Homo sapiens: one gene and its partners. The protein of the gene in region 2 purifies or fractionates together with the protein of the main gene of each other region. This does not show direct contact. Each region holds a gene or a part of one and is shown on either strand. Other genes may lie near its edges.

Region 1 (4,203 bases), on a different chromosome or scaffold from region 2:
TGCGATGGCAGAGCAGAGTCATTGCCGCAGAGACTGTGGCCTGCAATGCTGAAAATATTTACTCTCTGGCCCTTTACAGAAAAAGTTTGCCAAACCCTGAGCTAGTGTGTGCTGGGCCCTGTGCCAAGCCCTTTGTGTGTGCTCACTCAGTTAACCCTCCCACAGCCTTAAGGGTGGGGGCAGGGGGGTGGGGGGGAATAAGGCTCCGAGAGGTTGAGAAACAGACCCAGGGTCACACAGCTTGGAGATGGGTGAGCTGGGAATCAGACAGACCCGGGACCCCTGATATTCTTTAGGATCTTAGCTTTGTTAACCTTTGCTAATTTATCTTATTGTCTTAAATGCTAAAATGAATACACATTCATTGTAAAAAGGGAGGAATAAAGAAAAGGTGTTGACGGCCTTCTTCAGCCTGGGGTACATCCTGCCGTATCTTTCTCCACAGCTCATCCGGGGCTACTTTCCTTTAAATCTACAGCCATTCAGCAAACATCGGCAGAGGAGAACCGTTTTATAAGAAAACTAAGAAGTTTGGAAGAATCTTTCCTTCCTGCCCACCCTGGACCCCCATGAGTAGGTGTGCTGGGGCTGGTCTGCAGTGTTCTCACGGGAAACCAGGAAGCTGGGCCCAAGGCCTACATGTTGGGGAAGACAGGTCCTGCCTGTCTCCTGCTGTGGCTCCCCAGTGCTCTGAGGACAAAGCCTGAGCTCTCCCTGATTCTCCACCGTCCCTCTCACTCACTCTGGTCGTCTGGTCGCTGGGCCTTTAGTGAGTGTGCCATGGGGGCCCTGGGGCCGATTAAATTCCAGCCCCGGGGACCAGGCTCAGCTCCCAGCCAGGGCACAGACAGATCAGCACCTGCGGTTGTCTCCACCCCAACCCCCGGCCTTTGCAGGCACAGCGCCCTCCACCAGATACTCCGGCAAAGGAGGCCTGGGGACCCTGCGAGCGGGGCCGGGGGTGCAGGGAGCTGTCAGCTCCTCGCAGCGGCCTCCCCAGGACCCCCCTATCCCCTCGCTCGCCCTGAAATGTGTGTCCCTCTCGGCGTCTGGGCTCTCGAGAAAGGCCTTTGCTTGTCTGACTTCGCGAGGGTCCCGGCTCTGGCCCAGGAGCTGGGGAGGGGCGGGACTTGGTGACAGCCGGGTCCCAGCACCGCGCCCAGACCTAGGCCCTTCTCAGGGGTGCCCCGGGGCGGGGCGCGCGGGGCGGGGGGCGGCGGCGGCGCAGCCGGCAGGAGGCGCAGCGCCCGCTCGCAGCGCGGGGAGGTGGGAGGGGAGCGGGGCGGGGAGCGGGGCGGGCGGGAGGGAGAGGGGAGCGCGCCGGAGACGCGCGCGCCCAGCCCACCCCCCGCGCCCGCCGCCGCCCGGACAATAAACAGCAGCTTTGCGCGGGGCGATGCCCGAGCCGGTGCCGCCGCCCCCGCGCCGCGCAGCCCCGGCCGCCAGGCCTTAGCCCGCCCCGGCCCCCGCCAGGCCGCGTCCCCCTCCCCTCCCCTCCCCCGCGCGCCACCCGCGCCCGCCCCCGCCCGGCACCGCGGACCCACCCGGACCTCGGCGGGGAGATGGAGTGAGTAGGCGCGCTCGGGCCGCGGGGCTGGGGGCCCGGAGCTCCGGGAGCCGGGGAGGGGGGAGGCCCCCTCTCTCGCGCCCCATTGGGGGCGTCGCTGCCCCCGCGAGGAGCAGGAGGCGGCGCGGGGCTGCTGGGGCCGCAGCGCAGCCGGGAAGAGACTCGGGCTGGGCCGCGCCTGCCGGGAGGCCTCCCCGCTCCCGGACCCCGGCTGCCCACCCACCGGCGCGTGGGGACCCGGGCAGCGGCGGCTCGGGCCAGTCCAGGACGCGGGGAGGGGGAGGCTCGCGTCTCCGCCCGCGCCCCGCCCGCGTCTCCAGGGCGAGCCTCGGCTCTCGGCCACCTGTGGGTGGCCCCGGGGAGATGGAGCGACCCCTCCCCAGATTGCACCGGTCCGGCCTCGCGCTCACGCACCCTTCCCCCGCCCCAGTCTGAGCGCACGGCTCCTGGCGCCCTGGACGCGCGCGCGGGCCGGTGCCCCCCACCCCCGCCCTTCCCAAGGGCCTCCAGGGGTGTCCTGAGCCCCCCGCCACTGCGCAGGTCCCGAGTTACCGCTGGAGGGAGAGGGGCTGCCCTCGGCTTCCCGGGTCTCTGGGGTGTGTGAGAAGGGAGAGGAACCGGCGTTTTCCAGCGGGGCGCCTGGGTGGGATACCCTCTCGGGGAAGTGTCTCGGAGCTGGGGCTCCACTGGTGTAGCTACAGGAGTGGGCTGGCCCTGGGCTGGGATCCCTGGACCCCCGCATGGCTGCGCCTGTGTGTGTGGGGGGGGGGTGGCCAGTGGAGGCACCGAGCGAGGGCGCGTGGTCATTTCGGACACCGGTCCCCTCCTCCCGGTGCTCGGGTGCCCCTCTGCCCCTCACTCCCACAGGTGGGCACTGCACGGGCAGGGGTCAGGAGGCTCCTCCTGGGGTCACCCACCTGCCCACTTCAGGACAGGGGAGCCAGCTGCCCTGCTGAGGCCCGGGTCCCCACCCCAGCCCGAGGACCGAAGACCGGATCTGGAGGCCGCCTGTGGCCCCCTGCCCTTCCCACTGGGCGTGTTTTCTAAGCCGCCAACTTTCCCCGGGGATTCACCCGTGACCCGCCACGCCCGCGGCTGGGTGGGGGCCGCTGCCTCCCTCCCTCCCTGGGAAAGCGAGACACCCAGTGTCCTCTGCTTTTGAAAACCCAGACAAAGGCCTGACCCCTCTCCCCGTCACCCCGCCCCGGGAGCTCAGCCAGGGGCTCAGGGGAGCCAGGGCCCAGACTTGCCTGCTCCACACCCCCACCCCCCAGCCTTGTTTATCTGCCCTGCTCGCCAGGCCCCGGAGGAGCCTCTGGGCCTCTGACAGCCAGGCCTGGGCAGGGTGTGGCTGTGGGGAGGGGGCTGCCTAGGAGGACGACGGAGATCTCCCTCCCAGAGGAGGGGTGTCAGCGAACACTCCGGGTCGGGCCCATTGTTTCCTTCCTGCCACCCCTTCCTTTCCCACGGGGGATACTGAGGCCCAGAGAGGAGCTGCTGCCCCCCCCCCACCCCCCCTCCATCACACAGCACCTGGGGCCGGGGGGCCTCGGTGCCTCCTGCTCTGCTCCACGGTTTCTCCGTCCTGGGTCAGAGGGTGGCCCACAGGTCCCCCATTGGGTCATCATTGCTTTTGGGGATGCAGACATGGGACAGGCACCCAGTGTTAACCGGCTGCTGTGAGCCGCCATTCGAGGACGACTCTCTCCCCGGTTCCCGGGCTGACAATGGGTGGGGACAGGCCCATCTGGTGCCGCCCGGCCTTGGACACCTGCCCCCTCGTTCTTCTCCCCGGCGGGCTTCAGGCACGAAGGCCCCGTCCGCTAGAACGTGATCGCTTGCCTCCTCCCGTTTCCACAGATTTTCCAGTCGAAGACACGGGAGCTGGCTGTGGTTTGTGGTGGTGCCCGTCTCGCTGGAAAGTTTCACAAATGAATTTAAGAATTTAAAGAATTTTAAATGTCATTCAAGAACAGGTTATTTTTTGTTAATGTGAGGATTTAAGGAGAACTAGCGGGTTGCTAACCACAGGGCCGATGCTGCCAAGGTGAGGAGAACGTCCAGGAAGGAGCTGGGGAGAATCTCTGCTTCGGAGAGAATCTCTGTGCTCTGGGAGGGTTTGTGTGGCCCCTGCGTGACACATGGTCTGGCTGGTAAAATAAAGATATTTTGGCCTGGAGCAGCCATTCTCCAGCACCCACAGCCCTGTCCTGGGTACAGGCAAGGCTCAAACCCCCGGGATAGGGAGGAGAACAGACTTGGGCCTGGACAGATGGTCAAGACCGGCCCAGACTCCTCCCTGCTCGCAGACCTGGAAATTTTCAATAGGAAAGTCTCCGTTGGGTGCTAACTGGGTCCTTAACGCTCCTTCACACTTGCTAATCCCCCTTTTTAATGAGAGGCAGAGCCTGTTAAAAGGCAACAGTACCTAGTGATAATTGAATTTAATAACAAGCTTTTACTTCCGTTGTATCTGTTTCTTCCTCCATGTTTCCGCTGTCTTGTTTGTGGCGGTGGCTTCTGGTTTGCCCAGTGTTGATCACAATATAATGTTTCTTTCTAAAACAAGGCGATTTGATTTACACTGGAGTGGTTTTGAAGGCAAGGAATAGACAGATACTGTCCAGGAGGTGGCG
Region 2 (2,702 bases):
ACTAAAACTTAAGCATGGTTTATTATCAGCTCTGCAAAAAAAAAAAAAAAAGGAACATATCAATGATGGGACTGGATGCATGCTATTATTTCATTTTCACTATTACCTTTAAAAATCTTCTACCTTATAGAAAATTTACATACTTAGTGTAAAAGTATTTAATGTAAGAGTATTTAAACATTCAATCAGAAATTTGATATATTTAAGTTGTCATTGCCAAGTAAGACCTTTGGAGATAGGTTTTTAAACTCAGCTCTCCAAACTACCATTTACCAATAAAAATCTACTTGGTAATTACCTTTATCAACATAAAATTTTTCTCAGAATTATAGTTGACCATTACCACTAAACTATTAACAATTACCTTGGATTTGTATGCAATAAAAATTCTATGTGCTTTTAAATTCATTACCTTTTCATCATTCCTATTAGGTAAGAAGGGTGGTTTGCTATTATATTATAGTAGCCTACTTTTTCAATGGAAAAAGGGTGATATTGAGGGAGATTAAGGTAATCTGTCAATATTTAAAAAATTAGTTAATTACCTGAGTCAGAGGCCAGTTAATGCAGACACAGCTCTAAAGTAAGTAATGAGAAAACTTACATCCTGATGTCAAAGACACTTTTTATTTTTAAAGTGTTTTTATTTTTAAATATTTTAGGAAAAGCCTAAAATATTTCCAATTCATTCTCTGTTTGCTTAGCAGATTCGTGATACAGTAACACTGAGTTCATAAAAAAATACTCTATAGAGTATTAGAATCACTTTCCTCCAATTATTCAAGAATTAAGCTATCATAAATGAAATATTATATACCTAGATTCTTCATCCAGGACATCTTGATCAACCTCAAGTGCAGAGGACTCCACCTTTAGGATCTGTTCACCTTCTGTTTCTGACACATCCAGTGATTCTTCAGGTTCTAAAGACAATGTTCTAAAAGTATGTTATAGCAACAAGTTATTTTCTATGAACAAAACAGGCATATGTTTAATGTTGTGAATACAGGTAGCTATAGCAGTCTTTAGCTGTTAAGCCTTAATGTAGTTACATAGCTAATAAATAGCTCACTTTGGAAGTCAACAGAGAAAATCAGTAGCTATGATTAATTTAAAATGACTTTAGTATCAATTCAAGATATGCTGATGAGATGGCAAACCAGAGCTTTCATATGTGAAAAGCTGGCATAAATGCCTAGAAACTAAGATGTCACTTAAATAAAATAATGGTATTCCATTTAATAATGATTATTTATTTAATAATGATTTAACAATGATTAAAATGAATAATGTTTACCTTGTTGAACAGTTAGTGGCTTATTTTCCTGATGTTTCCCATCCTTCAATGTTCAAAATTTATTTAGCAAAATTATGCTAAATAAAGCATAATTTTCCCAATGAAGTATGCCAAAAGCCTACAACTTTCAGAATCAGAAAATTCCTAAATCATATTAAAATATAAAGGGCAGTTAGCCCAGAGTATTAAGGGTTGAATTAGTCAGAGTAGAAATGCAAGTATCACAACACACCTGATTCTGTTCTCTAAAGTGTCTATATGAAGTTGCTTCTCACTGAGCAGTTTCTTTAGTGATTCCATCTCCTTTTGTTTTTCAAGTAGTTCTTTCTGTAAGCGGTAGTTTGTCTCTTCTAAAGTTTCACAGAATGCCTTAAAAAAAACAACAAACAAAACTAAACACATGCAGAAAAAGAATACAATTAATTACAAATGCAGTATCTTTCTCAAGAGCATTATTGAAGAGTCAAAGAACACAGATAATCAAAATAATAGTATGAAACTCCAAATGATTTGTTCTCTACCCTCATCTTTTTAGGTCACTGGTATCTTAACTTTAGTTCCCATCCACCAGGGGGACATAACTACAAGTTCTTTTTCTTAAGACTTACAGTAGTAAGCTAGTGTGCCTGAAGTGAGTATGTGATATCCCTCTAGTGTAGAACTGGGATAAAAAATAATTGGCAACTACTGCTTTAGTTTTTACTCTCTTTAATCTACTTTTGCCTAGTCATACATGATTACACTTAAAAAATATCAACTGTGGTTGATGCCATTTGTATTAGCTCAGTAGACATACTACTGTAACAGCATTTTGGTAATCTTGACACTTGGGTTGCAGTACCAGGATGGTACAAGAAATGAGGAGTCAGGTACATTTTGGGAAGTAAGTGACAAAAAGTGATAGATTCAGGAATAAAGCAAAGACCCTAAAGAGCCTATTAATAAAAGTCACTCAACAACACAGAAAAACATCAAGAAAGATTGTTTGTCTCAATCTGGTTTCTAGGTGGGCGAGGTAAAGTCTCACCTGAAGAATCTAATCTAAAAAGCCTCATATGGATTTTGGGAAAAACAATGTATCATAAGGAAGACAAATAAAAACAAATATATATATATAAATACAAGATACTGAAGTTGCAAATATCAAAATCAAATAGATCTCTAAAACACCAGGAAGACAAATCAGTTTACTATAAAATTGTAAGACAGTAGGGGACTGGGAGTAGATGTCATAAAACAGTCTATGTCAAAGGCAGTGGAAAACACTTTAAAGCACTGAGAAAAATAACTATCAAGGTAGAATTCTACACTCAGTTAAATCATACTTCAAGAATGAAACAAAATTAAAAGACATTTGAACATCAAAGATCTAAGCATTACCAATACACATTCACTGAAAGAACTA
Region 3 (3,651 bases), on a different chromosome or scaffold from region 2:
TAGCCCAGGCAACACGGCGAAACTCTGTCTCTACTAAAAATATAAAAATGAGCTGGGTGTGGTGACATATGCCTCTAGTCCCAGCTACTCAGGAGGCTGAGGCTGGAGGATTTCTTGAGCCAGGGAGGTTAAGGCTGCAGTGAGCTGAGATTGCACTACTGCATTCCAGCCTGGGCAAAAGAGCAAGACACTGTCTCAAAAAAAATAAATACATAAAAATAAAAATTTCTGTTTTCATTAAGTAATCCCAAAATGTGTATTATTGATGGGTATATATTTAGGGTCATGTATATTCAATGTTGTGTACATTAAAAAACCCAACTTCCATTGGCAATGCTAACCAAGACCTCTTATTAAAAAAACAAACAAACAAAAACCACAAAGCCTATTTTTTTTTTCTTGCAACGGGGTCTCACTTTGTCATCCAGGCTGGAGTGTGGTGTGAGGATCTCCGCTCACTGCAGCCTTGCTCTGCTTTCCAGGGCTCAAGCAATCCTCCCACTTCAGCCTCTTGAGTAGTTGGGACCACAAGTGCAAGCCACCATGCCTGGCCATTTTTTTTTTTGTATAGAGACGGGGGTTTCACTATGTTGCCTACACTGGTCTCAAATTCCTGGGCTCAAGCAATGTGCCCACCTCAGTCACCCAAAGTGCTGCTATCACAGGCGTGAGCCACTATGCACAGCCAACTTTTTTTTTTTTAAATAGTAGATATAAGTGTAAAGTATTGAGACCAGAGGTTTTCTTGTTGTTTTGGATTTTCTCATTCATAAATCCTCTGGGCCTCACATATCCAATGGGTGTTGTCAGTGAGAAGTGGTCACTATGGGGACCATGTACATATTCCAGCCATGCTGCCATGATTCCGGTGTTTTTACTTCTGTTTTGGAATTATCTTCAGGGTCCCTAGCATGCCTATCATTCCCTCACTCAATGCATCGCCTGAAAGGTACTGCTAGGCATGAAGCAAATACTCAGTAACAACCTGGACAGCAGCAAACCTCTGCCCTCCAAGGACAAGCTCCATCCAGAGCCAAACACCCTCGGAGACACATTATTTGCAAGATGAGGGTGGCCAGGTGAGGGACGCCTTGGGGCTAGGTGAGACCAGTAGCTACAGACATGTCTGGGGTCTGCTGGGGTCAAACAGGCTATACTTGATGCCCCATGTCCTGGGGGCCACTTGTCCACCTAAAACCTCTCCCACAAAGTCTCAAGAACCGGTGGCAGCAAGAATGTTATGATCCTCCCTGTGGCCTCCCCTCTGAATCATTAGGCTTCTCTACAGGCAAGAAGAGAAATGCAGGCTGCCCCCACCTCTCACAAATGCTGTGTGTTCCTCCTACCGCATCAGCTGGTCACCACCCCAGGCATGACTAGGAGGGTCACTTCTGTTCAGGCAATAGCCTCCCAGCCTAAGGGCTAGCCCAGAGAAGGACACGGGGAGGAAAGCTGTCCTTCCTACTGAGTGTCAGGACCCTCCCATCTTGGGTGCTGGGGGCACTGACTCTGAACAGGCCCTCTTCCCAGGCCTACTTGGAAGCTGGAGTCCGCTTCCCCAGCTAACCCCATACTAGCTGTTAGGAGCAATGCTCCCAAACCAGGCATCCACTAGGTCCTGCAGCAAGCTGTGCAAATTAAGTTTGTGTGTGATTTCATGCACACAGGAGAGGCAAGAAACAGCCTCCATATGATACAAGGGATAATGAAGTACTAAGGGTGGTATATATAGAAAGAGAAGTCTTAGTTGCCTGAAAACAAGGGAGGGGAAGGATTTGAAACTGTTCAAAGCAACAGCAAGAGTTTCCTTTTCCAAGGAAGCTCCACAGAAGATTAATGATTATTTGATGGTAAGTCCTGTTACACTTGTGGGGAAAAAAAATAAGTGTGCAGCTGTTCTGCCGTCACACCAAATCAGCTCACGGAGGCCAGGCCTCTGGGGTGACATCGGTGGTCTCTCATGCCAATCACCAGAGCCCCTGCCCCACTCTTACTTTCAGCCTGTCCAGTTCCAGCTGGTCCCTGGCAACAGGCACAACCGAAGGGGAGCTGGGCGCCACGGTGGGAGGAGGCCCGTTGCCCTCGCCCTCGCTGAGCTTGATGATGACCTCGTCCTTGGCTTGGATGGTCTCCATGAGCATTCCCAGCTGCTCGTTGAGCTCGCCCACTTTGCTCTTCAGCGTCCTTACTTCCTGCTGAAGACTCTCCTTCTCCAAGCTGAACCTCTCCAGCTGGCTGGTAAGGCCCAGAATCTGATCATCCTTTTGGTGCAGAAGCTCGAGCGTGTCCTTTGGGACCCCCTCACAGAGCCGGCTGCTTGTGAAATACTTGTCATACTGGGATGACCGGACTGTCTGCTGGAGCAGTCGAACAAGCTCCTGGGAGCCAAAAGGAGAATGGAGTGAAGGGTGAAAAGAGCAAGGAGAGGAGGAAAAGCAGAAATCATGACATTACATGGAGTAATCGACAGAGTTTGAGGAAATGTAGAAACTTTACTGGAAACATTTTAATACTGAACTTCCTCTTGAAGGATCTCAAAAATAGAGGAAAAAAATATTTACTCCATAAAGACTGTCTGTAGAGAACAGTAATAGGAAACAGGAAATAATGGACATGTCCACTATAATTAGCAATGGTATCCAGTAAATGTCATGGGTATTAAAAAACCTGTGCTCTAAGAGTCACTGAACTGCTGAACAATTAAATGTAATTAGATCTGATTAGTTCAAGAAACCATTGTTGAATAGGATGCAGAAACTCTTTTTAATGACTGTTAAAGAACTCTGGGCTGAAACTGTGTTTAGGGAGATTCAACCTCAGGGGCAGGACTGGGCTGTGGTGCAGACAGCAACCTCCTCTGTCCTCCTTTGAGAGATCTTCACTCTCCTTGCAAATGCAAACACCTCTGAACCAATGATCAAGCACAGCAGCTGTGCCTAGATGACCGCCATGGCAATATGAAACCTCCAGGGGAAAAGCAACTCCTGGGAAACAAAGCTGTCCCCAGAAAGACTCAGGGAAACATAAATTGGGCTTTACTCCTCCCGTCCTTGGCCTGCTGAGGTGGGGTAAGACAGAAGCCAGAAGAAGAAGTTACCTTCTGACTGGACAGGTCTTTCTTTAACTGTTCCAGCTCTTCCTGCTGGCTCTGGACCTGCAGTTGCATTTCGGAGGCCGGCTTCCTGATGCTGACGCTGCCACTGCCTGATGTGCCTTCACTTGAAGGGTCACCACTGCTGTGACGATTTTTGTACGACCCAATTATGTCTTTCAAAGGGCGCTTTCCTTTGTAGGGGTTACGTCCAAAATCAAAGGGGAATCCTGAGCCAGTTACTCCTACATAAAAATAAAACTTGTATTTTATTATTATTATTATTATTTTTGAGACGGAGTGTCGGTCTGTCGCCCAGGCTGGAGTGCAGTGGCGCAATGTCGGCTCACTGTAAGCTCCGCCTCCCAGGTTCATGCCATTCTCCTGCCTCAGCCTCCCGAGTAGCTGGGACTACAAGCACCCGCCACCATGCCTGGCTAATTTTTTGTATTTTCAGTAGAGATGAGGTTTCACTGTGTTAGCCAGGATGGTCTTGATCTCCTGACGTTGTGATCCTTCCTCCTCGGCCTCCCGAAGTGTTGGGATTACAGGCGTGAGCC

The links.
Region 1: the proteins of SNX16 (region 2) and PALM purify together in Homo sapiens (affinity purification with mass spectrometry; one large-scale study listed by BioGRID and IntAct). This does not show direct contact.
Region 3: the proteins of SNX16 (region 2) and TBC1D2B purify together in Homo sapiens (affinity purification with mass spectrometry; one large-scale study listed by BioGRID and IntAct). This does not show direct contact.

The regions. Positions count from the first base shown.
Region 1 is NC_000019.10:707,585-711,787, forward strand, and holds the start of PALM (paralemmin-1), read left to right. Parts: upstream 1-1,350; 5' UTR 1,351-1,562; coding exon 1,563-1,567; intron 1,568-3,377; exon of another isoform or gene 3,378-3,603; coding exon of another isoform or gene 3,604-3,614; intron 3,615-4,203. UniProt on the Homo sapiens protein: Involved in plasma membrane dynamics and cell process formation. Isoform 1 and isoform 2 are necessary for axonal and dendritic filopodia induction, for dendritic spine maturation and synapse formation in a palmitoylation-dependent manner.
Region 2 is NC_000008.11:81,801,563-81,804,264, forward strand, and holds part of SNX16 (sorting nexin-16), read right to left. Parts: intron 1,667-2,702; coding exon 1,530-1,666; intron 938-1,529; coding exon 818-937; intron 32-817; coding exon 1-31. UniProt on the Homo sapiens protein: May be involved in several stages of intracellular trafficking. Plays a role in protein transport from early to late endosomes. Plays a role in protein transport to the lysosome. Promotes degradation of EGFR after EGF signaling.
Region 3 is NC_000015.10:78,022,162-78,025,812, forward strand, and holds part of TBC1D2B (TBC1 domain family member 2B), read right to left. Parts: intron 3,337-3,651; coding exon 3,098-3,336; intron 2,379-3,097; coding exon 1,995-2,378; intron 1-1,994. UniProt on the Homo sapiens protein: GTPase-activating protein that plays a role in the early steps of endocytosis.